Homo sapiens: one gene and its partners. The protein of the gene in region 4 purifies or fractionates together with the protein of the main gene of each other region. This does not show direct contact. Each region holds a gene or a part of one and is shown on either strand. Other genes may lie near its edges.

Region 1 (3,500 bases), on a different chromosome or scaffold from region 4:
AAGGGACCCTCTAAGAGTTATCATCATTCACTGAACAAACACGTATTAGCTATCATTTAATAAGTACCTACTATGGGCCGGGCGTGGTGGCTCACGCCTGTAATTCCAGCAGTATGGGAGGCCGAGGAGGGTGGATCACCTGAGGTCAGGAGTTCGAGACCAGCCTGACCAACATGGACAAACCCTGTCTCTACTAAAAATACAAAAAAAAAAAAAAAAAAAGTACCTACTGTGTGTCCTGGGAAGACCACAGTAAATCAAACTCGGTCTCTACCCTCAAAAAAACTCACAGAGGAGCAAACCATTACAACACATTACAATTTTTATTCATTATAAACAATTTTAATACAGTACTACAATGTCATACTGGATATGTACGAGGTGCTAGGGGACACGGAGAGGCACATAAGCTATCTAAGAGAGTTCAGGGCTTTTAAGAAGACATGTCACTGAGCTGATGAGTGATGTGACAAAACTTATAACACTTAGGATCAATCTCTTAAGCTCCTCTACCACTGCATGTACGTTCCTCACCCTCCAAATCACCAAGTTTCTCTAAAACACAGTTCTGACACTCTTTTCCAAGTTGTCACTGACCCCTTCATATACTTCCCAAGCCAGTGAACCTGACATAAGTGACTCATTAACATCTGCATTGTAGCCAACAAGCTCAATTCAATCTATAAATGTGTCCTGAATGTCAACTATGTTGCAGGAACTGTACTAGGAACACAAAAGAAAAAGATGTGGCCCTTCCTCTTCAGGAGCCCCCAACACAGTGTGGAAGACAGATATAGACAGTGAACTCTAATACAATAAGATAAGTGCTATGTCAGACTTACGAATAAAATAGACAAAACAGAGACACTGTGACTGCAAAGGATCTCAATAGAGGGTGAGGGAGTAAAGAAAGAGCCTAACATTCATAGGGCTCCTACTACATGCTAGATATTGTGCTGGGGACTTTATATTGCATTTAATCTTTACACCAGTCTGAGAGGTAGGTTATTATCACTGTTTTACAGAAGAGGAAAGAAGGCCCAGAACTGTTCACTAACTTGTTCAGGGTCACATGGCTATTAAATGACAGGTTAGATATGATTTCTACGTTCATGCTTTTCAACCCACTTCCTCCCTTGCCCCAAACAGTAAGTGTGCTGCCTATTGTAAATATGGTTGTATCTTCCCTAAACTATACCCAAATTCCTCAGTTTTGAAAATGGTTGCTGCAAATATTCTGTTTTCCCTTCACCCAATTTATAGACTGTCTAAACCTAAAATCAAGCATCAGCGACCTTACCTTCTTCCTACCCTGACTCTCTTCCATTTTTAACTAGAGTACAAGTCTAATCCCATCTGTACTGTTGCCTACACTGTATTTCCCTCCTATATAAAATACGCTCTTTTTCCTTCATCACTTGTTATTAGTTACACTCTCCGGATAGGTCCGTATGTCCCGCCCCACTCCACACCTTTGCAGCCTCCATTCGCCTTTTCCTTTCTGAGTCAAGAATCTCTAACTGCTTACCCAGAACCGTAACATAAGCCTTGGTCGAGTCAGGAACAATGTCCACTGGGAGCTCCAGGGAGACAGATTCAGATGCCACCTTTCCTGTGAGATGCAGAAAAAAAGGTGACACAATAGAAGATGGGGAATGGCAGGGGTTCTCAAGACAAAATTTTAGAAGAACTTTCTATAATCCAGGGATTTCTGTACTCGGTGCTTTCTCTGGGATGCAGAAAGCACTGGGTACTATTCATAGTGATCTTGCTGAAAATAAATTCCACAGAGAGTCATCATCGTGCTGCACACTTTCTCTTCTTCCTCCTGCCTCCCAGTTAATCAGCCCCATGAGGAATGGCACTTCAGACTCTCCTATTCCTTCTGGTACTATGCATTCCTCCTTTTGCCTATGAAAATCTCCTGCTGCCGGGTGCAGTGGCTCACGCCTGTAATCCCAGCACTTTGGGAGGCCAAGGCAGGAGGATCACAAGGTCAGGAGTTCGAGACCAGCCTGGCCAATATGGTGAAACCCCATCTCTACTAAAAATACAAAAATTAGCCAGGCATGGTGGCATGTACCTGTAGTCCCAGCTACTCAGGAGACTAAGGCAGTAGAATCACTTGAACCCGGGAGGCAGAGGTTGCAATGAGCTGAAATCGTGCCACTGCAATCCAGCCTGGACGACGGAGCGAGACTCCGTCTCAAAAAAAAAAAAAAAATGAAAAGAAAATCTCCTGCCCTCTAAGGGAATTCTCACCACCAATCCTGCTCTGAGTCCACCCACCTTTTGGGCACAGCAATGAGCTGTGTGTCTTCTCCACCAGGACTCCCTCAGGCTGCGATGAAGAGAGACACAGATAAAAACAACAAAGATGAACATCAGGAGGGATGGCACTAAAGGAAAGGGAAGGGAGGCCCCTCGCTGTGCCCCCAGGGCTTCCCTCAGAACTGCAGACAAGAGCTTCTCACTGAAGCTCAGAAGAACTCTGCGTCAACCCAAGGATGGGCCCTTTCTGTAAAGTTCTTTCTGGGCAAGTGCTAGAGCCAAAGACACATTTAGGCAACTTCTAAGAGGCAAGATTGACAATGGGCTTCATGATGGGACGAAAAAGGCAGCTATTGATGAAGACAGACATTTTAATTAGGTAAACTAACATTTGTTGAGTGCCTATGAGGTGCCGGGTTTTAGGTGCTTTCATAGGCCGTGGGTGTGGATTAGGCAAATGTTCAAGGGGCCAGGGAAGGAGAAAGTTGAAGCTGCCTGGTTGGACTGGAGTATGGTTGCTGTGAGAGACTAACTCACAGCAAGACGAGATGCTGAGCATCCCTCGGTTGGTTGCTGTCTCTACCTCTGAAGAAAACTCACTTTGACGAGAACTGGCTTGATGAGCGTGTCACTTCGGCCCTTTTGGGGAACAAACCCCTTCTGGCCCCCACATGGTTCATTGCTGTCCAGAATCTTTGTACTAATAGTAAAGTTAATGTGACCTGAGAGAAAGAAGAAGGGAAGCCATTAGCCCTATTGCCAGAGGTACCAGTGAGGTCCATTCCCATTTGGATCAGCATTTCTGAAACTTTAATGGGGATCTTGCAACAGTGCAAACTCTGCTGCCATAGACCTGGGGTGGGGCCCATATTCTGCATTTCTAACAAGCTCCCAGGTGATGCCAGAGAGGCTAGTCCAGTGTGGTAGGTAACCTCTAAGGGCCCTCAGAGATCCCTGCATCCTGATATTTACATCCATTGAGTGTGAGCTGGATTGAGTGACTCGCTTCTGTTAAAGAGAACAGGGTGAAAGTAATGACTCTTCTGGGATTAGGTTACAAAAAAGACTGCAGCTTCCATCTTGGGTGCACCCCTTTTCTCAAACTGCTTGCTCTGGGGAAGACAGCTGTTGTGTGATGAGGCAGCCCAGCAGAGAGATTCATGTGATGAGATACTGAGTGAGGCCCCTAGCCAAAAGCTGAGGTCAAGAACTGTGTCCTTCAGTCTAGC
Region 2 (3,500 bases), on a different chromosome or scaffold from region 4:
GGTTGTCAGTAGCAACCTTTTCTGTTGCACACACATGTGTGCACACACAAAAGAATCCTACCTTCCTAGTAGATAGCTGAGTGTTTCTTCCATCACCTTGCCAATTCCTAGTCTGTCCACTTCAGTCATTGAAAAGTATTTAATGCCTAGAGTTTTCAAAATGTAGCTATAAAAGAGAAATTAAGATAATTATAATTAATAAGGCTGACTGTGCCCGCCTGTCTCCTTTTAAGGGAAATATAAATATAGTAAAATATATAAAACATTTAGGTTCTATGAACCTAACTCAATATAGTTTTATTTGTATTTATTTTTAACAGCAAGTCAATTGAGATTTAATTGCCTGGATACATACATATGTATGTACATGTATATAAATATATGTGTGTGGGCATGTGTGTGTGTGTGTGTCTTGATGTTTAATTTTCTCTCATAGAGTTGGTCAGTAAAGCATATCTAGCACACAAAGGGACAAAAATGGAGGCAAATCACATCAAGGAATAAGCTTACTGTTCCCCAGGGTCCACGTCTCTCAAGCCAATATACACAATATCCTTGGCAGATATACAGGGAGTCACCCAGGAGAATCCTGGCACATCGGGAATCTAAAATTACAATGTTTTCACTTGGTTATGTATGATTCTCTTGAACAAATCCTACATTCAAAGGTAAAGACACATATTGGATTGCGTATATCTTATATTTAGAATATAAATACAGAAGAAATCATGTAAAAATAATACACAATTAAGAAGAGGATGTGTGCCTCCCCTTGATTGCTTTGACTTTGCCTTGAACCAGTTGGCATTTACCTACTTTGTGCCCCAGTCCTGCTGGGCCCTTCTTTCCCAGGGCTCCTCTATAAAGAAACGATTGTGCTCCCATTACTTTGGTAGCTTCCTTCTTTACTTCCCTTTCTCAGTAAGTCCTTAATCCAGAGGATGGCCTAGAGCAGCTGAGGGAAATTTGTGGCCTGTCCTTTGGTTATTCTTAATGTGATAATATGATGATATCTGCTTTGTCCTCCAGGACGTTTAGTTTTTCCCATGTACTAGGCAGATACTTTGCAAGTTTATAAACCCATCCCTTGGTCATTAGTTCAAAAGACATTATTTCTGAGCATTTAACATAAGGAGGTTTTAACCTCTTGTATCATCATAAGGACCAAATATTATAATTGTATCAATAAAAACTTTTTATTGATATACTATGGCATATCAACAAACTATGGCATATCAACAAAGTTATAAGCTGTAATATTAAATCTTAATCTGCCATTTTATTTTCCATCTTTTAGAAAAGGAGTTTCTAGGGAGCAGGGAGATAGTTCTTTCTCTTATGATTTAGATAGGTGCTTCTCCCAGTAAATACATTAGTTCATAAACCATTATATCTGAAATTTTAAAATTTCTTTTTTGAAAAGCCTCTATGATATAGAAGGACTACTCAGTAAGAATGCAGAACTGTGTGGCATGTAGTGGAAAGAGGAAGGAATGAGGAGACCTGGTGCTAGCCCTTGCTTCACTATAGGCTTGGCATATATCTTGGGCAAGTTGGTTAACCTCTGAACCTCCACTGACCTGTTTATAAATGATTACTCTCTGCCCCACCTACTAAAAGGATAGTTTAAGAATTAGCAGAGAAAATATATATTAAGTCAGTTTGCAAGGCAGAGATAGAGAGCCTCACTGCCTTTTATCAACCAACCCTTTGCTTATTGGCTGCAGAGAAAATGATTTGAGATTACACCAAGAATAAGATAACATGGAGTTTCTCATTTCCCTTCCACCTCCTGAATGTCTACTAAAAAGTATTCTATTGCACTAGAGTACCAACCAGTCTTTTACCTTTCCTTTTAGTTCCTTCAGGAGGAAAGATACAGGTTGTCCATGCAAGTTTCCACTTGTGGTTGTCAGTGGAGTGTTGATATCAGTGTGAGCATCCACCCAGATGACTCCAAGATCAGGGTGGACCCTGGCATGGCCAGAGATGCTTCCAATTGCCAAACTTTTGGGGAAAAAATTTTGTGTGAACATCAGGTTTGCAGTGTCACTACATACATCATATTATTCACTCAATGCTCCCACTTGGTTTTCCTTTGAGTCACAGTGTCTGATATTTCTGATAGGTTCTGAATTGGAGATGCCAATTAGTTAAAACAATAGAGAAAGCATAACTTACACTTAATGCTCACTAACTAGTTATATTTACATCGATTGCATTACTAAAAAAACTGTGATTTTTTTTCCCAAAATCCACCTTGTAAGAAAACCACGATTAGAGCGTAGCCAAAAAAATAAATGAGTATAAAAATACTAGCCACACAAGAAATTCCTTAGCATGAGACACTGTTCAATTCTCAGAGTTAAATTTGGATCATTTTCTGTACACTCATCTCTCTTGGTAAATACTTAATTCTCTCAAGTGAATTATGACAAAGTCTTTCAATTTTTCTTAAAATCCAGCTTTTATAATTTGAGAGCATCACTCAGAAGTTCTTACATGTTCTTACTCAAGTTCTTCAGCCAGCGTATGGCGTGTGTTCACTCATTCTATTCAATGCATCTAGTTACCCACTCAACCAGGAACAAAGTTCATCCCAAATACTTCAAGCTCCAGACATTTTGCTGGAATGGAAGACATAAATGATATCTTGCACAGAAGTTAAAAGTTAGGATTTATTAGGTTGGTGCAAAAGTATTGCGGTTTTGCCATTTAAAAACTGCAATTACTTTTGCACCAAGCTAGTACTATACAATGCCTGTATTCTCCCATTTGTGAATGTTTAAGTATCATTCAGAGAATCATGAGCTTTTAGATTCTCGAAGTGGAAGCAATAATGCCTTAACGTTCAGGTATGGATTATTCAGTGGACGTTTGTTTTCCCTTTAGGTTTCTTGTCTTTTGCCATGTGCCATTCCTAAAATTTCCACTTAACAAAGAAAGCGAGCCTCAGTTTCCCAATTGCAGTTTTGATACAGAGGCCTTGGTGACAGTTTGGCTTTAGAAGAGGAAGCCAAGGAGACCTGAAGTCATTGACTGCTCAAGAGCCATAGAAGTGTTTCTACTTTTAGATCTAATCAGGCCTTTCTGGTAAAATTATCCTAGGCCTTGGGAGTAAATATTTAAAGAGGCTCATGCACAAAAATGGTCTTTGCCACATTATTTGTAATGGTGAAAATTATAATGCAACCTGAATATGCCGCAATATGTACGTATATAGCGATGTAACCCCTTGATGAAAAATCATGCAGCAATTAAAAAACTGATGCTTATGATGCTTATGCACATCCCATGAAGCAACAAGGAAATTTGCACTGTAGAGTGAGAACACAACATAGACATCTGTCTCTCTCTCTCTCTCTCTCACACACACACATACACACACACACACACGTTAAACAAAGTCATCATGTACAAGGAAAAAAAAGATGCCATGAAAGAAATGTGCCAGATTTTCAATTCTGGTTGAAATGGTTGCTAGAGAAGTACAATTACCA
Region 3 (3,500 bases), on a different chromosome or scaffold from region 4:
GCCGTCAAGGCTTTGGCGTGAGGCGCTAAGCCTCCCTGGCTGAGCCACATCTGAGGCCCCGTCAGTGCTGTGTCAAGGTGACCAAATTATAAACTCCCCAAGGGCAGGGACAGTTGCTGTATGTCCTGCAGTGCCAGCCCAGCAGCTGGCACATGTCGGGAGGGGCTCAGTAAGCAGGGGCAGCCAGGGAAGGTGAGAGGGGGCAAGGGCTGTTGGGTCCAAACCCCTGCCCCGTAGGTGTGCCCATACGATGCAGAGTGTGGGGTCCCACAGCGGTGTATAGGATGGGGGAAACAGGCCCAGCCAGAGACCCTACCCCCACCTGTCCACAACCCAGGGTCCTCATGGCATCACCAGGCCGGCTGTGCACTGTCCCTCCTTTCTCCACAGAGGCAGGGGCTAGGATAGTTCCTTCAGGGGCATCATCCGTCTCTTGTGGGCGAGGGGATGGATGCATAGGTCCCGGCTCTTCCCTCATGAAGACAACTGAGGCTGCTGGGAAGGGTGTAGCTCCTAGTTGGCTACCCACCAGGCAGGCTCCGCCTTTCTGAACCCCTCCGCCGGGAAGGCTCCAGGCTGTCAAGCTAAGGACCACCCAGATCCATCTAGGAATGAGCCCTTGGGCCGGTTCCTTAATAAACTCAGATCCTTCCCGGGAAAAGCATCAATTGAGATTCTCATGCCAGATGTCCACAAGGCTGGGGCATCTGGGTCCACCTGAAACAGCACCCTTAGCCAATGCTCCAGGGAAACCAAAGGCCCAGGCCTGGCCCACATCAGGATGGGGTGTCCTCCGCAGGGGGTCGCCTGTGGCTGATTTCTTACCAAGGACAGCATCTTTCCGGTTGCGATGGCGATCGCAGACTCCAGGGCCCCAGTGGTGGAGAAAGTCCAGCAACTGCCGCAGGCACCCTGGAAAGGCCAGGGGAGAGCAGAGGACATCAGTGATGGGGACGCCGTGAGACAGCCCTGCCTTCTGCCTTCCTCTGCTGACCCTGCCAGAGCTCCCGAGTCCCCAGGTGCCTTGGCAGTTTACCAAGCCCTGTTCCAGATCCATTCATTCTGAGCCTCGCAGGCCCTGTTCCAGATCCATTCATTCTGAGGCTCGCAAGCCCTGTTCCAGATCCATTCATTCTGAGCCTCGCAAGTCCTGAGAGGCTTGCAAAGGAGCAGGAGCAGCAGGTGGCCTCTGACCAGTGCCTGTGGACTCCCAATCACCACCTCTTGGTGGCCAATCCCCACCATTCTGCCAGGGCCTGGAGTCCCCCACCCCATTCTGCAGTCTTCTGGCTCTCTTCCTTCTCGATCTTCACTGGCTCCTCTTTTCCCTACTGGTTCCCTGCAGAAGGATGCCCCAAAGTTCTGTTTTTAGAACCTTCTCTCACCTTTCCACCTCCAGTCTCTTCTGCCCAGTCCTGTTAAACTAACAGCTCCCCAAACCCTAGCCCAGTGCTGACCTCCACTTAGGCTCAGACATCCAACTAACTGCCAGACAACCCCACCCAGACACCCCTGACACCCCAGACTCTGGGGGACCCGCCCCATCCACCCATTTCCCCACCTTCTAACAGTTCATTGCCGCTGCCTAGCCCCCTTATTCACAACACCTCCAGAATAACATGAGGATTAGGTGTGGGGGGCTGCAGCCTGCCTGCCTGGTTCACATCCCAGCTCTGCCACACACCAGGTGGGTGACCTGGGCAAGTCACTTCCCCTCTCGAAGCCTTGGCTTCATTGCTTGTAAAGTGGGAATGGCGAGGGTTCCTGCTTGCAGGGCGCTAGCAGGGTTAAGTCAGATTCTGCTGGTCAGGCAGTCACCCCCGTGGGCACAATGCTGGTGGCTGCTGTAAGGATTTCTCTCAGGTTCATCTCTGTTTCCTCACCTTGCTGGTTCAGTCTTCCAGCTTCTACTTCTGAAATGTCTCTTAAGTCCCCTACCTGCCTCCCAGGTCATCACCCTAGGTTGACACTGGCCTCACCCAATCTCTTCCCTTCACATATCTCTCTCAGCTGGGGGAGGGAGGGACGGCCTGGTGAGAGGGTCCATGAGACAGTCAACGAGGCAGACGTGGCCACTTCGGGGGAGACTAAGCTCACTGCTGAAGGAGGCGGAGCTCGGCTGACCCTTGGGTGCTCGACTTGGGGCAGGGGCCTGGTTTTGAGTCCCCTTTGTCACTTACTTACCTTGGACCTCAGGCAAACCACCCTCCCTCTCAGGCTCTCCCTCTGTAAAGTGAGAAACTCTCAAGGAGGGTGCTGAGCTGATGGACGCTGTGGCTGCTGTCCGTCTCTATCCCCACACAGCGGCCACAGTAAGAGACGGCACACATCTGCGTCAGGAAGCACCTCATTCCGCTCCCTTAGCCCAGCCGGCTGCGTCCTGCCTGATGGCCCAGGATCAGTTAACAGGAGGACTTGGAAAATTCTTGGTGGGCCTCTCTTTCCCACCTGTCCAAGTGGTGGGCAGGTTTAGGTTACGTGTTGCTCTGAATTGTCATGTGGTTCTCAGAGGGTCTAAAAATGTCACGGGGCAAAGGCAGGCTTCTACTCCACCTCCTGCTGCAAGGGGAGGTTTGCTTTGGCTCCTGATGCTAGTTAAACATCCAGCACTTGGCAGGCTCCAGGAACACTGCAAGCCCGGGAGGCTTTAAAGCTGTGCTGCATGGATGGCTTTTTGGAAAGTGAAAAAACATTTCTCATGGAGAATTTCGATGGAAAGCCAGGAGTTTCCAGGAAGGAAACCTTCACCTCATATTTCCTAGAGTCCAGAGGTCGGCATCCTTCTGAAGAAGGCCACGGCAGGTTCCCTGCTAGGGGAGGGGCCGCAGCAGGCCGGGAGAACAGCGGGGGCAGGGTCCAGACTCTCTGGGACAGGGCCTGTGCTGAGATGCCCCCAGACTGCTCCCCCATGGAGGAAGGCAGGGCCTCTCACCTTGCCAAGCCCTCTGTGCCCCACAGCAAGGGCCACGGAGGCCAGCCCCTGCCATGAGAAGCTTGCTGATGCATGACACATGGACTAACCAGAGGGAGGCGGCCAGCCAGGGCAGGGGCTGGACCCTGGTGGCTCGGAGAAGATGGAGGCGGGAAGAGGAGATGCATGGGGTTCTGGTGTCCAGATGGGCACAGGGAACATAACGTTTTGGATGGCTCTGTAGGAGAGACCTGGGACCAATGGGAAAATCTGGGGCGTGGGGAAGGAAGGGAGTAAACTTTAGCCCAATAAAGAGGAACTTTTGCATCCTCCAGAGCAGCCTAGAGAAGTGCTGACCTCCCTGGCCCCTCAAAGGAAGAGGGCTGGAGAGATGCCGAGAGGAAACAGAGGCAGGGATGTGCTTGTGGTGGTTTTGTGGACCTTTTGAGTTGTTCTTCCTGGTGTATTGTCTGGGAGTGTGGCCGTTTTGCAGGGAGAGGATGGAGATTGCCAGGCATACCTGATTTTTCACAGGTGAGACAAAATTTCCTTTTTTCCGCCAGTCCACGGAAGGTGGGTAGGGACCAGT
Region 4 (3,500 bases):
ACCTCATACTCGGAATGGCGTGGTAGCCCAATCGGAAGCGGAGTTTGCTGGACCCAGCAAAATCTACAATCACCTTTTCCCCCACAGTGTGCATATGCTTAAGGAGTTCAAGGTGTTCCCTGGCCACAGCCTTCAGACTGGAAATGGAGGTCCACGGTAAGACCAGCCAATGGTAACGGGCCTTTGGGTATTTATCCTTTATCACCACCACCTGCTCATCTTTGTAAACCTAGCAGAGGGATACAAGAGAAGGAAACAGACATCTACTAAGAATCTTCTGTGTGCCTGGTTGTTATATTCACTAAGTCACTTAATTCCCACAGTCTTGTGCAAATGGTTTTAATAGCCCAGTTTTGAGAGAGGAGAGCACTGAAATTCAGACAGGTTGAGTGTCTTGCACAAGTCATAGTTCCTAAGAGGGAAATCTAGGATTCCAACTCAGATGTGGTTGACTCCAGAGTCTGTTTTCAACCACCACACTACACAGAATACACAGAAGATGCACAGTACAAAATAGTTCCCAAGAATGTGATGTAAAATCTCTGTAGACATAAATTCAAAAGCATCCTTCTCCACTCCAACATGGCAGACTGTGTGACACGTACACGTGGGTTCCAGTGAGCCCTATTAGACCTGCCCCTTGTCAACAAGGAATATAATTGAAGTGGGACTCAAAGGCTCCTCAAGGATGATGCCTGTTTTTTTTTTTTTTTTTTTTTTTTTGAGATGGAGTTTCGCTCTTGTTGCCCAGGCTGGAGTACAATGGTGCAATCTCAGCTCACCGCAACCTCCACCTCCCGGATTCAAGTGATTCTCCTGCCTCAGCCTCTCGAGTAGCTGAGATTACAGGCATGCACCACCATGCCCAGCTAATTTTTTGTATTTTTAGTAGAGACAGGGTTTCTCCATGTTGGTCAGGCTGATCTCGAACTCCTGACCTCAGGTGATCCTCCCGTCTCGGCCTCCCAAAGTGCTGGGATTACAGGGATGTCTGACTGTTAATGCCAGGGCAGCACAGTACTACTGTCACAGTGTATTATCTCTGATGCTCCCCTGAAAGGAACCATACTAAGGTTAATGCAACTTCCCTTAAAGTACCCAGAAGTTTAAAAGGCACAAGGCAGAGGGGATATTCATTTGAAGAACTCAGCTTTCTCTCCAAACAATGACAGCTGCTACTTTATTGCCAATGTGAAAAGCCTCTTGTTCTCACAGAACAGCCCAATAAAATGAATCTCATTCAGAAAGACTGATATCCTTTGATTTCATTTGTAATTAAGACCTCTGTGGAGTGGTCATTTACAACATGAAATGTACTGAAATTCCAAAATTGTATTCTGACCTGCATTTTGGGGTCCTGCATAGAAATCTTCAAGCCTTGACTCCAGTGGCCCAGGGATTCCTAAAAAAAAAACAAAAAAAAAAACAAAAAAAAAAAAAAACAAGCAATGTAAATTACAAATGCCAATAATTAAATTTGGCAACAGTTAATACTGTGTGATAGCACAACTAAACTTGGAAATAAGCTTAGTTTTTGAGAATTAAACAAGATTCACTTGACTCTGCTTCACTCCATTGCCTTCCTATATTCTCTTTTTTTTTGAGACAAAGTCTCACTCTGTCTCACCCAAGCTGGAGTGCAGCGGCGTGATCACTGCAACCTCCGAAGTGATTCTCCTGCCTCAGCCTCCCAAGTAGCTGGGATTACAGGTGCCCACCACCACGCCCAGCTAACTTTTGTATTTTTTAGTAGAGACGGAGTTTCACCAGGTTGGCCATGCTGGTCTTGAACTCCTCACCTCAGGTGATCCACTGGCCTCCACCTCCCCAAGTGCTGGGATTACAGGCGTGAGCCACCACACCCGACCCTATATTCTTTCTTTTTTTTTTTGAGATGGGGTTTCGCTCTTGTTGCCCAGGCTGGAGTACAATGGCGTGATCTCGGCTCACTGCAACCTCTGCCTCCCGGGTTCAAGCGATGCTCCTGCCCAGCCTCTGGAGTTGCTGGGATTATAGGCATGCACCACCACGCCCAGCTAATTTTGTATTTTTAGTAGAGATTAGGTTTTGCCATGTTGGTCAGGCTGGTCTCGAACTCCTGACCTCAGGTGATCTGCCCATCTCGGCCTCCCAAAGTGCTGGGATTACAGGCGTGAGCCAGCACACCCAGCTGTTTTTTATTATTGTTGTTGTTTTTTGAGATGGAGTCTCGCTCTGTCGCCCAGGCTGGAGTGCAGTGGTGCAATCTCAGCTCACTGCAACCTCCGCCTTCCAGGTTCAAGCAATCCTCCCGCCTCAGCCTCCCGAGTAGCTGGGATTACAAGCATGTGTGTACCACCAGGCCCAGCTAATTTTTGTATTTTTAGTAGACATGGAGTTTCACAATGTTTGCCAGGCAGGTCTCAAACTCCTGACCCTCAAGTGATCTGCCCACCTCGGCCTCCCAAAGCGCTGAGATTACAGGCGTGAACCACTGCACCCAGCCAGCCTTCCTATATTCACAGCTGGCTGTTCTAAATGAAGGCGAGAAATGCCAGAGTATGAGTCATACCTTCTTTGCCCTCTCTCACTGCAGCTACAGCCTGACCAATTCTCCACTTTGACATCAGCATATGAATTACATGATCTATGAAAACCTTCTATAGATGCATAAACAACTGATCCACTTTAGTTGTTCAATGTTAAGTACACACTGCCATTATTGTTGTACCTTCAGGTGGCTTACCTCAGGAATTTAAGAAAAAAGCACATAAAGGAACATTCATCCAAATGATTTTCACGCCACAAACAAGTGACTCTTTCATCATGGTTAATAACCCCTCACGCATTTCTGAACTTTAAAGTGTACAAAACAATTAAGCAGTCATTATATTTCATTTCTTCTCCACATCATCTACCAATCACACTACCCTCACCTTTTTGATAGGTGCATCTTTTCCCTTCTTTAGGGGCACAGAGCATTGGCCAGAGTTGCTCCCAGGTTCCAGCCCTGTCCCAGCCTCAGCTTCCTGAGCAGCATCCCTTTCTATAGAATCACTGTTGCCTGATCTCTTTCTCTTCCTGTGTGTTTCCAGGCCAGGGTTCTTTGCCTCTTCCTCAAACTCTACAATATATGGATAAAGTTCATTCACCATGTGGAGAACCTGGCCAGGCTGCAGCTTCACCTCTTGGTCCTTCCCAATTACGACTGAGTCAATGCTGGTGGGATTGACTCCTACCTATGGAATAAACAATCAGAAAATAATTATAATAATAGCAACAGCACCTACAGTAAGATAGCCACTGCTATGTTAACCACTTACTATATGCCAAGCACCTTGCCTTATGTTCACCTATATTACTCCATCACTTCCATACATGACAGAGAAGCCTTCACTGGCTGGCACAGACACTCTAAAGTCAACAGCATAAGAAAATCATCGAGTATAAAATTCCAAGTTATAAATACACCTACCTGCTTTACCTTGACATATCCCTTGTTACACTCTGCTTTCAACTGT
Region 5 (3,500 bases), on a different chromosome or scaffold from region 4:
ATCTTTGGAGGGCCATCATTCTGTCTACCATGGAGGGATATGGGTTGGGTTTAAATGTCAGCATTCCCGAACCCAGCATGAGAAGGGAGACAGTCCCAAATTCAATATGTAAACTTTTACTGAGCCCATCAACTTTCTGTACAGTGCTTCATTCCCACTCTCAGCTGGGCCTGATATGCAAGAGTCTACTATGAGCTCTTGACTCAGTTCCTGCTAAGTGTAAAGCTCGTCTTCTGCCGGGGTGGAGGACAGTGAGGGAGAAGGAACTATGGGAGGTCTCACTGTCCTTCATACAGATCAGTCCTCTTGCTTTTGGTCTGAGACCTTACTCCTGGCTACGACTTTTTGGTGTTGCTCATGCCTGCGCCATTGTGACGTTCTGCAGTGTGAATCTGCTTGCTTCTGGCTTAGACTTTCCCCTCTATGGGCTTAGCTTCTGTTTAGACTGCTCAGCATTTTCCATTGTTCATCTGTTTTCCAACTTCCAAAATTTTATTGGTATTTCTGAGGTGGTACTTGCCTATCTCCTGTTGTCTTTATGTCTGTGGATTTGTCCTTCAACCCCAATTCTTTTCTGTCTTTTGGAGGAAAAAGGATATAACTCTCTGTGTTGAATGTACCTTGTTTATTGAGAACTTGCTTTTATGCCCTTCATGAAAGCATTGCATGTCCATACAACTTCAATCAGGCCTCCAGTCCATCTAGGATTCTCCCAAGGCAGTCCTTCCTATCAGTGGGCAGGTTTTTTTTGTTTTTTGTTTTTTTAAATTTAAGAGACAGAATCTCCCCCTCACCCAGGCTGGAGTGCAGTGGCGTGATCATAGTTCACTGCAGCCTCGAATTCCCGGACTCAAACAATCCTCCCTGGGCAGATGTTTTGAACCTTTACTACTGATGCCTCAGTTTGAGTACCAGAACTGTTTTCAAAGATGTAGACATATGCAAACTGTGAGTTCTCAGACCATTTCTGAAAGGCCAAACACTCCACGGACCACCACTCAGTTCTCCTGTAACCTTGAGAATAGACGGGAAAAGTGTGATTGTTCTGTTGAGATGGAAATGAAATTTCAAAGTGGAGAAAGGGAGAAGACAAATAGTGAGGACAAACCAGAAGTGGGAAGAGCTAGGGGCAGGAGAGCGGAGAAAGGATGCACAGAGAAGTAGAGTAAGGAAACAGGTTATTGTCTTAGGGTCCCTTTCCAAAGCCTTTCAAAATTCCAAAGGAGGGATGGCCAGTACTTGGCACCAGTCAAGTTAGGAGCTGAGTTTGAAAGAGTTAATCTCTACACTAACCCCCAAAGTATCCATTTAAACCTCATTTTATGAATGGAGAATGTAAGGCTATGAGTTGAGCATGACTGCTTAAAGTTGAAAAATTATTCAACATAGTTATTTTAAAGTCCTTGCATGATAACTTATATATCTGATCTGTGTTCCTTCTGCTTTTCAGTCATGTTTCTTTTTAAGCACGTATCCTAAGCCAACCAGCCTTTCTTTTCTTTTCTTTCTTTCTCTTTCTTTCTTTCTCTTTCTTTCTTTTTCTTTCTTTCTCTCTCTCTTTCTTTCTTCTTTCTTTCTTCCTTTTTTCTTCCTTTCCTTTCCTTTTCCTTCCTTCCTTTCCTTTCCTTTTCCTTCCTTCCTCTCTCTCTCTTTCTTCTTTCTTTCTTTCTTTCTTTCTTTCTTTCTTTCTTTCTTTCTTTCTTTCTTCTTTCTTTTCTTTCTTTCTTCTCTCTCTCTTTCATGGAGTCTTGCTCTGTCACCTAGGCTGGAGTGTAGTGGCACAATCTCAGCTCACTACAACCTCTCCCTCCTGGGTTTAAGCAATTCTCCTGCCTCAGCCTCATGAGTAGCTGGGACTACAGGCATCTGCCACCACTCCCAGCTAATTTTTTATATTTTTGGAGAGATGGAGTTTCACCATGTTTGCCAGGCTGGTCTCAAACTCCTGGCCTCAGGTGATCCACCCACCTTGGTCTCCCAAAGTGCTGGGATTACAGGGGTGAGCCCCCATGCCTGGCCCTAAGTTTTTATTTCTATCTGTCCTAGAAATATATCCAAATCTTTAACTTTTCCATCGTATCTGTGTAATCCACAAATGCAGAATTTTCCATGAGAGAGGGGATTTAAAAGATCTGGTTTGTTTCTTGAAGTGTTCTGGCACCTGTCAGACTGTGGACCTTGATTTCTGGTTCACTCTACTTGTAACTTGCAGCCTCCCTCCCTCTTCCCAGTAAAATAGATTTGCATGGTTTAATGTTAGATGACATGGACCTGAGTGATGAGATTTGAGCTGAGGAGCAGGGAAAGGGGCAGAGTAGGGGAGCTTGTCAGTGAAACTTAAGTCTCAGAAGGTAGCTTGGTGCTGAAAGACTCCCCAGGATGGGCACTAGGAGGATGCAGGCCAGCTGGGAACGGTGGTGGGAGACTGGCGGTGAACGGACACATCTCCTGCTGAATGCAGTTGGCCTTCACCTTTCTCAGTCTGCCACGCGTGATGGTGACGGGAGCTCAAGGAATACAGTGGAGGTTTGTCGCTTGGTCTCCAGCCGGGGAGGAGGCTACCAGGGAGAAGCACCTGGTATAATGCATTTAACCCAGAGTTCTTCAAGCATTTCTCATTGCTACTGAGCATGAATCTTGGTGAGGTGTTTATTCTCTGAGATCTGAGGATTTGAGCCATGAGGCACCCAACACTCAGGCTTTTCCCCTAATCTGTAGTCATTCTACAGAAACAATAGGACTGTGCCTAATTTAATAGAAAATAGATAGAAAGATATTGATGGCAAAGTGGATGAATTACATTTGGGGGAGATTTAGAGAGTAAGGAAGGAGAGTTTGAATAGTAACATGAAAGGACAGTAGGGCCAGTAAGATGTGACTTGTGGACATTTATTGTCTAAGTATGTTTTGAAGGAAGAAGGAAGTATGGGACAAGGCATTGAGGATGCAAGAAATGAAGTCACCTGGCTAAGAGAGGAAGGACTGGCTGAAGAGAGGAGAATAGAGTCTAGGGAGGAATGAGATCCAGCAAGAGATAGGGTCAGCTGGGGCATTTTCTTACCAGAGATCTGCAATCTCCTAAGACAGGTGTTCCCAACCCCTGGGCTGCAGACCAGTACCCATCCATGGCCTGTTAGGAATCGGGCTGCACAGCAGGAGGGGAGCAGTGGGCCAGTGAGCATTATGGCCTGAGCTCCGCCTCCTGTCAGATTAGCGGCAGCATTAGATTCTCATAGGAGTGGGAACCCTATTGTGAACTGCATGCAAAGGATCAAGGTTGCGTGCTCCTTATGAGAAAATAATGCCTGATGATCTGAGGTGGAACAGCTTCATCCCAAAACTATCCCCTCCACCCCATCTGTGGAAAAATTGCCTTCCACAAAGGTACCAAAAAGGTTGGGGACAGCTGGCCTAAGAAGAGTAGGAACTGAGACATCCTGCTGGAGGGACCATGGGGGTGGGAGGCAATGAACAACTGAAGAGAGATTTACATTTGTGGG
Region 6 (4,149 bases), on a different chromosome or scaffold from region 4:
TTCGGGGGTCAGCCCAGCGGCAGCTGCCTCAGGCCCCGGGAGCCAGGGCTCAAGGGGTGCAGAGCCTCTAACCCAACTGGGGACCATAGCCATGTTCCACCCACAGTGCTCAGCTACCCTTGCTGCTCATGCCCCTGGGTGCCTGGGTCTCCATCTTCACTCCCCAACAGGCCGACGCATCTTCACTGACCCCAGCCTCTTCTTCCAGGAGGGCTCCTTCTCTGGTTTGCTGAGAGTGCACTCAGGTCCTCCTCACTCCCTGGCAGTTCCCCGGTCTGGTTTTTAATTCCTTCAGACTCTTTGCTTCTGCCCAGAGAGCTCCCTAATCTCCAGGCTTGCTCACTGTGTGGAGCACCAGATCCATGAATCCACCTGCTCTGGGACAGCTTCACCTGGAGTTCCCATAGTCCCCTCATGTTCAGCACGACCCGGGTGGAACCCAGCATCTCACCCCAGATCTGTGACCCAGCAGTCCCCCAAGTCAGAGCTCCCCTCTGAGACTACCCCATCTGCTCATTCCCCCTCTGAAACCCTGTCCAAGGCAGCCCCTCTACACACCAAGGCCCACGGCCCAGCTCAGACCTTTCCTTTCTCCTTGGACCATCACAATCAAGTTACCCACCTCCAGCCACCCTCCACCTTCCATCCACCCCGAAGAGGGCTTGCCAGACACAAAGAAGACCCTCATCCTGAGCTTCATCCACCAACTCCTAACCTAGTGGACTAGCTTGGTGCCAGTGAACAATGGCTAATCTCCATTGACAAAAATCACGACTGGAGAGAATTCCCTCTCTCTCTCTCTCTCTCTCTCTCTCTTTGTGTGTACACACACATCTACATGTATATGTGAACCTGACATTTTTTTTTTTAATTTGGACAGCTGCTGCTATGAGCAGACAAATAGCAAATGCATGTTCAAATAAAACCTCAGAAACAACCGATGACACAGTTGATGAGGCACGTGTGAGCTCACAGTGGTGATTTTAGACCATGGTCACGTAGAGTGTCATGTTCATAAGACAGACTTAAGTGTATCCACATTTCCAGACATTTCACACGGAGCACTGGGACACTCCCGGGTTCTGCTACCATGACATGTTTAAGAACTTCTTACAGGCCGGGCAAAGCCCAACTCCTCTGCCCAGCACACTAGGGGCATTCGCCACTGCCCACTCCACTCGCATACCTCGAGGCTGCACTCACCAGTGAGTACTTTCAGCCTTTCTGAGGCTTCCTGCACAGCCCCCACCCCACCCTCATCTGCACCAGTAGCAGCAAGCCCCAGGCCCCCAGCACAAAGCCTTGCTGAGATACCCACTGAGAAGGGGCTAACTACTGTGTTTGGAGCAAAACATCTCTGGCTGCCCAAACTTGGTCTGGGGCCATCTCCCACCCTGGATGGGACCTCCAGGGGGAAGGCCCAATCTGATACCCTCCTCCAGGCCCCCTAGGGTCCAGCCCAGCCCACAGCGGGAAATCTGAGAGCCCCAGGGATTGCACCAAGGAGGGAGCAGGTGCAGGCTACACAGCCCCAGATCCTGGGAACCCAACCCGAGAGCACATGCCTGATCAGGATGGAAAATCCCACCCAAGGGCCACTGCACACACCATGGACACATTCTAACTGCTCTGGGTGGCCCATGCGCAAGGTAGTGACTGGTCCACGTCGGCCTCCGCCCTATCCCCACGTGGTGTGGGCCTCTGGCTAGTCACTGACCCGAGGAATCTAGACACGGCTCAAGGCGGGTTTCCACCTCTCTCCCTTCACGGTAAGGGATTTACCCCCTGCGATGGAGAGTTCCCAAAAGCCGCTGCTGATCGCGTCCCCCTCGACCCCCCTCCCCACCCATCCAGGGGCCTGAGTTCTCAATCTGAGTTAATCAATAACCAGAGCCGTCAGGCCTCAGTGAAGCGGCAACGCAGGGGAGCGTGAATGGAGGGTGGGGGTCAGGCAGGGGTGTCGACCATTCCAACATGCCCCGCGTGGCTCCAGGCAGTGCTGAACAGTCAGGGGCCGGACTTCGGCGCCCAAGCCGTTGATGTCATGGGACAGAGGAGAGAGGGAGACAGGACTCTGAGCAAACAGAGCCTGGCTCTAAAACAGGGCGGAGGACCAAGACAGGTGCAGCTGGCAGGCTCAGCGGTCCTCCCCCCGCCCTCTCCAACTCCGGAGGGGCGGCAGGACCCCCATCACCTAGTCCGAGCGGCCGGTGAAGGCCCCAACCCCGCAGACGCGAGCAGAGGCAGGCAGTCGGGGCGAAGGGGCGGCACCCGGTTCGGAGCCCCACTCCCTGGCGCCAGCGCACGCGCTCCCCCGGGCTCACCTGGCCGCGGCCGGACAGCGAGAAGGTGGCGTGGCTGGCGAAGCGTGCGCTGCCCAGGCGGGGCGCGCGGTCGGGAACCCCGGGCGCGGGCGGGGGGCTGGGCGTGCCGGGAGTGCCGGGCACCGGGGACATCCCGCTGGCCAAGCCCAGCGCCTCCACCTGGCGCGTCAGGCGCTCGAGCTGCGCCTGCAGCCGCTGGTTGTCCCGCTGCAGGTCGGCCACCGTGCGCGCCAGGGGGCCGGCCAGGCGCATCGCCTCTGCCACTCGCCGCTCCACGCCGCGCTGCAGCCCCCGCATGTCCTCGTGCAGCGCGCGCACCGCACCCTCCAGCGCCGCCTCGTAGCGGCCCAGCGCCTCGCGCACAGTGCGCGCCTCCTGGGCGTCGGGGGCCGGCTCCATGGCCCAGCAGAGCGCGCGGGTCGAGAGCGGGCCAGACGGGGGAGAAGATCCGAGCTCCGCAGCTCCGGGCCGCGACTGGCCGTCCGTGGCTGGCTTCGCTCGAGGGGCTGCCGGGGAGGCGGGCGCGGGGCGGGGCCTCGGGGGCGGAGCCGGGGACGACTCCGGGACACCCCCCTGCCCTGGAGCCCAGCGGGACGGTGCGGAGGGAGAGCTCGCCCAGCCTCTCCCCTCCCCGGCTCTTAACTGAGCCCTGCGACCCCGGAGGAGCGGCGTGCGGCCTGCGGGAGGGGCGGCGGGCCCACCCGAAGAAGGCCCTGGCCCCCCTGGACCGTAGAGAGCACACCCGGGCTGACGCGTTCGCTCGGGACTCTCACCCGCAAGGCCCAGGTTCCTCCGGGGGCGGAGACTCCCGGGCTAATGGGGACACCTACAGCTCCCACAGCTGCCGCCCCACTCCGCGGGGCCCTCCCTATGCAGCGGCCACGGCTCTCGCAGGCACACGCTCACCTGTGGGACCTTCGCCTGGAATTTCTTGTATCTGTTCTAAGACCTCAGGGAGGAGACAGGTGGTGAGGTCCCCTCCCTGACTCTGCGACTACGCGCTGTCCCCTCCCAGTCCTACTCTGTATAGCAAGATCTTCGTGCCCTTCCCACTAGTGGTCGGTAGAGGCTCCCGACCCACCAAGGGGCCTCCGTTAGGAGATCCTGGAGAGGCTAAGGGCAGACAGAGAAAGAAGGGTGTGCTGGAGCTGCATCTCCAAATCCTGGAATGGGCGGCTTTGCGACTAATCGCCCCCTCCCGCAATGAGAGTCTCAGTCACTGGCCTCTACCCGTAGGCCAGGGGTCTTACCCCTATTCCTTCTCAATGCTCTTTATGGCTGAACCCAGATAGTTCCCCCTTCCAAATGCACACCCCAAACCATCACCAGAAAAGGGAAGAAGGGAAACAGGTGTTGCTTTAGGACGATGGGATGATGGGCAAAGCTAACTCTAAGTTTTCGCTATATCATAAAGCTGATTTAAAATAAAAATGAGAACATATCCTCCTTTGTGCAAAAAACCTTTCCTAATTGGCCTTCTTTTTCCCAAGCCTGGCCTGCCTGAAAGAGGCCCAGAGGCTGGGCATGCATAGCCAGCTGACCTGCAGGAAGGAGAAGTCTGAAAGGCTTGTTCATATCATGTTCTGCTCCCAAGGTTGTTTGGAGCCCACAAACCCTCCTGGACTGGCCATCATTGCCCCAAAGGAACTGGAGCAGCCTGACAGATGCTAAATGCTGGTTCTCTCCCCCGCCCCCAGCCCCAAGGGGACAGGAAGGAACGCTGGGTTACCTAATCCAAGGAGCCTTCCAGCAATTATTTCATGAAAAAGGCAAATGCCAAAAGGTGTGCATGCTGCATATATGTGTGAGCATGTGTGTGCATTCC
Region 7 (3,500 bases), on a different chromosome or scaffold from region 4:
TCTATATCAAGATCATCCAGGAAAAATACATCTGGGGAACTCAGCAACGCTCACTATATTTCAGACTGACACACTCTGATTTTCTTTACATTTCAAAGAGGCCAGGCATGGTGGCTCATGCCTGTAATCCCAGCTACTCTGGAGGCTGAGGCAGGAAAATTGCTTGAACCCAGGAGGCGGAGGTTGAAGTGAGCTGAGATTGCGCCACTGCACTCCAGCCTGGCAACACAACGAAACTCCATCTCAGAAAAAACAAAAAGAAAGAAAGAAAGAGAGAAAGAGAGAAGGAGAGAAGGAGAGAAGAAGGAGAGAAAGAAAGAAAGAAAGAAAGAAAGAAAGAAAGAAAGAAAGAAAGAAAGAAAGAAGGAAGGAAAGAAAGAAAGACAATCATCTATCCACCCTCCTCTTAAACTTTCTAAAGTAGGGGGATGCATACCCTGGATAATATCTTTCCTCCTCCTGGCATGAGGCAACCAATAAAAGTTTTGTCTGTCAGTGCAGATTTCAGCACGAAATGGAACAAGCAGAGATAGAGGGAGACAGTAAGAATTCCACAGCTGACCCTACCCCTTACCACCTTTATCTTTGACCATACTCTGTGTTGGGGCCCTGTGGCCTATAGAAGCAGATGAGGGACAGAGTGATGATCTAGGCTTCTTTATCATAAGCAGAAGACACCAGATCCTACTCTTTAGGAAACTAGCTGATAGCCAAGGACATCTGAGATCCATACTCAGGAATCACAGATCACATGAGGTTATTGCTGTTGATGGTATCCAGAGTCTAATATTTGGGGATAAGCAACTATCACCAAATATCCTACAGCCAGAATAAGCAGTTTGTAAAAAAGAAAGGCAAGAGTTTTCTACGGTGGCGGTTCACCTGCTGATCCAGAGGCTCTGTCGTTTTTTTCTGCCCCTCCAGAGAGCTGTCAGCCAGCACTTTTTGTTTGTTGCTTTTCAGACAAGGGTCAGGTTCTTTGCTTTCATTCTGGGAAAATTCGTTGAAGTGTAGTACCTGCATGATAACGGGATGGGGTCTTTCAGATAATATGAACAGAGGGAAGCCTGAATAACTTCAGAAACATTTCATAATGAGACAATGGCAATGATTACATAGTCAAACAAAACAATCAACAACAGTTTAAAGGAAAGTGGGTGCTTCTGTACTTGGGTTGGGAGGTGGAATCGAGGAGAAGAACCAACCGCTACCCTGGGAGAGCATTTATGAATAAATATAACCAAACTAAAAGAACATAGAGGTATCCACAAGCTAAATGTAACTATGGAGCATTTCATAGATACCCAATCTGAATTGACTGTAAGTGCAAAATACACACCAGATCTTGAATATAGTATAAAAAAATAAATAAATAAAATAGCTCATTAAAATTCTTATATTGATGATATGTGGATATGATATTTTGCATATACTAGGTTAAAAAATTATTATTAAAATTAGTCCCACCTGTTTCTTTTTACTTTTGCAATACAGTTACTAAAAAATTTTAAATTACTATGTGGTTCTCATTATGTTTGTGTCAGACAGTGCTGATCTAGAGTTTCACATGAATCAAGGGAGTGAGGACAGCAAAAGACAAGTTATCCAGAGCCTGGTAGAAAGGTAGGAGACAGGCGTCATATCCTGCACTACTCAGACCCATTTGGTCAGCAGGTGCCCTCAACTGCCTAAGAAAGAACATCTGAATTCTGCCCTGCAAGATGCAAACCACACTCTAAAGCTAAGTTTTGCTAATGGAATAAGAAAATAATACACCAAATCTTAGTAGATGAATAAAGCAGAATGACCCCAGAAACACATTCTGTCTTAATCCATAAATTCTACTGCTCCATATTCAGGGGAAACAGCCTGAGTTGTGCATAACCCCCGCACTATGTGCTACATCCAAGGAAGTATAAGGCCAACCATGGGAACTTGTAGTTTATTTGGGGATTTGTTCTTATTACCTTCATTTATTTATTCTAGAAATGTTTATTAGGTGCCTACAAAAGTATCCCTTATGGTCTGGAGGTCAGGATGCAGCACTAGATTAGGAGGTCAAAGTAGGCCCCGTATAGGAGATAAACACTGATCAAAGTCTTGAAGAAGAAAGTGAGCTGAGGTCAGTTACCAGGGGAAAGAGCCATCAGGCAAAGGGACCGAGAGCAAAGGCCCCAAGATAGGATGGGCATGACTTACCCAAGGAAGCCAGGAGGCCAATGTGACAGGTACAGTGAGGAGGGATGAAAGTGAGAGATGGAGTCACAGGGCTTATCTGGGATTCAGATCTCCAGATCCTTGTGGGCCATTGTAAGGACTTGAACTGCTATCATGAGTGAAATAAGAAATCCAGGTTTTTGAACAGATGAGAAATAGAATCTGGCTCAGGTTTTAAAAGGGTCTCTTGGACTGCTGTGCAAAGGATAGATTGCCAGTGAGAGCAGGAAAGCCCATCAGGAAGTTGCTGCAGTATCCAGGTGAGAAAAGATGGTTGTGGTTCAGACCTCAAGGAGACTGGGAGAAGTGCCTGGATTATGGATATCTTTCAAAAGAAAAGCCAACAGAATTTTCTAACAAATGTGGTATAAAGTGAGAGAGAAAGAGTCCAGGAGGACACCAAGCTCTCTAGCCACTGGAACCATATATGGTACTTAATGAATATTTATTTAATGAAATGAGTGAGACAGAAGACATATACACATACTAAAAATCGCTAGCAATATTGGTATTAGCAATCATAGAGTAAAAGAGTGACAGACATGCATACAGAGATAAAGATAGAGATGAATGAGAAAAGCTGCCAGACATGAAGTTGAGGAGCACCCTAAAGAAGGTACAAGTTTAAGTGAGACTTTAAGAATGGTAGGATCGAAGAGGAAGTAAGATGGAGAAAATACAAATAAAGACTCAGAGACAGGGATGGGTTCTGACCAAGCCCAGGGTGCAATAAGCCCCTTGGCTTGCCTAAGTGGGATTAGGGTCTGACTTTGAGTGTGGACCCAGAGTTTAGGACCCTGTGTAGCACCCTAGTGGACACGTACCTCATCAATCTGATGTGCACTGTCACTTCTAGCACCCAAGCGTACCATACCAAGGGCAGCTGAGAGGCTCAGGGGAGAGAAAAATATGTTTTTATGACGATCATCTTTGCCTATCTCTTGAAAAAGATCAAAGCAAAATTTGGTGTTTGCTGTAACAAGAGAGTCCATTGTAAAACTTATAACGATCTAAAACCAAAAAAAAAGGAGAAAGAGAAAATGGTGATTGGAAGAAAATAAGTGAACAAACAATTTTATTTTACATACCTGAAATACAATCATGCACAATTATTCAGTATGCTATTAAGAACTGGAAAACTAAGGTCATTATCATCCCTGTATATAAATATTGGTGTTGATATTGATAGACAGAGATCTATTTTCATTTAGTAGTGTGAATTCGTTTCCTGGGGCTGCCATAAGAAATTACCACAGACTGAGTGGTTTAAATAGCAGGAGTTT

What was found.
Region 1: the proteins of APTX (region 4) and A2ML1 purify together in Homo sapiens (affinity purification with mass spectrometry; one large-scale study listed by BioGRID and IntAct). This does not show direct contact.
Region 2: the proteins of APTX (region 4) and ARG1 purify together in Homo sapiens (affinity purification with mass spectrometry; one large-scale study listed by BioGRID and IntAct). This does not show direct contact.
Region 3: the proteins of APTX (region 4) and CTSH purify together in Homo sapiens (affinity purification with mass spectrometry; one large-scale study listed by BioGRID and IntAct). This does not show direct contact.
Region 5: the proteins of APTX (region 4) and CSTA purify together in Homo sapiens (affinity purification with mass spectrometry; one large-scale study listed by BioGRID and IntAct). This does not show direct contact.
Region 6: the proteins of APTX (region 4) and SMTNL2 purify together in Homo sapiens (affinity purification with mass spectrometry; one large-scale study listed by BioGRID and IntAct). This does not show direct contact.
Region 7: the proteins of APTX (region 4) and SERPINB12 purify together in Homo sapiens (affinity purification with mass spectrometry; one large-scale study listed by BioGRID and IntAct). This does not show direct contact.

Annotation. Positions count from the first base shown.
Region 1 is NC_000012.12:8,853,621-8,857,120, reverse strand, and holds part of A2ML1 (alpha-2-macroglobulin-like protein 1 isoform 1 precursor), read right to left. Parts: intron 2,994-3,500; coding exon 2,872-2,993; intron 2,342-2,871; coding exon 2,290-2,341; intron 1,613-2,289; coding exon 1,529-1,612; intron 1-1,528. UniProt on the Homo sapiens protein: Is able to inhibit all four classes of proteinases by a unique 'trapping' mechanism. This protein has a peptide stretch, called the 'bait region' which contains specific cleavage sites for different proteinases.
Region 2 is NC_000006.12:131,579,726-131,583,225, reverse strand, and holds part of ARG1 (arginase-1), read right to left. Parts: intron 2,008-3,500; coding exon 1,848-2,007; intron 606-1,847; coding exon 511-605; intron 167-510; coding exon 62-166; intron 1-61. UniProt on the Homo sapiens protein: Key element of the urea cycle converting L-arginine to urea and L-ornithine, which is further metabolized into metabolites proline and polyamides that drive collagen synthesis and bioenergetic pathways critical for cell proliferation, respectively; the urea cycle takes place primarily in the liver and, to a lesser extent, in the kidneys.
Region 3 is NC_000015.10:78,931,547-78,935,046, forward strand, and holds part of CTSH (pro-cathepsin H isoform a preproprotein), read right to left. Parts: coding exon 3,432-3,500; intron 913-3,431; coding exon 826-912; intron 496-825; exon of another isoform or gene 51-495; coding exon of another isoform or gene 1-50. UniProt on the Homo sapiens protein: Important for the overall degradation of proteins in lysosomes.
Region 4 is NC_000009.12:32,984,629-32,988,128, forward strand, and holds part of APTX (aprataxin), read right to left. Parts: coding exon 3,455-3,500; intron 3,219-3,454; coding exon 2,916-3,218; intron 1,403-2,915; coding exon 1,343-1,402; intron 230-1,342; coding exon 3-229; intron 1-2. UniProt on the Homo sapiens protein: DNA-binding protein involved in single-strand DNA break repair, double-strand DNA break repair and base excision repair.
Region 5 is NC_000003.12:122,331,748-122,335,247, reverse strand, and holds part of CSTA (cystatin-A), read right to left. Parts: intron 1-3,500. UniProt on the Homo sapiens protein: This is an intracellular thiol proteinase inhibitor. Has an important role in desmosome-mediated cell-cell adhesion in the lower levels of the epidermis.
Region 6 is NC_000017.11:4,583,180-4,587,328, reverse strand, and holds the start of SMTNL2 (smoothelin-like protein 2), read right to left. Parts: upstream 2,801-4,149; 5' UTR 2,724-2,800; coding exon 2,325-2,723; intron 1-2,324.
Region 7 is NC_000018.10:63,555,869-63,559,368, reverse strand, and holds part of SERPINB12 (serpin B12), read right to left. Parts: intron 3,228-3,500; coding exon of another isoform or gene 3,210-3,227; coding exon 3,042-3,209; intron 1,018-3,041; coding exon 883-1,017; intron 1-882. UniProt on the Homo sapiens protein: Inhibits trypsin and plasmin, but not thrombin, coagulation factor Xa, or urokinase-type plasminogen activator. May play a role in cell differentiation.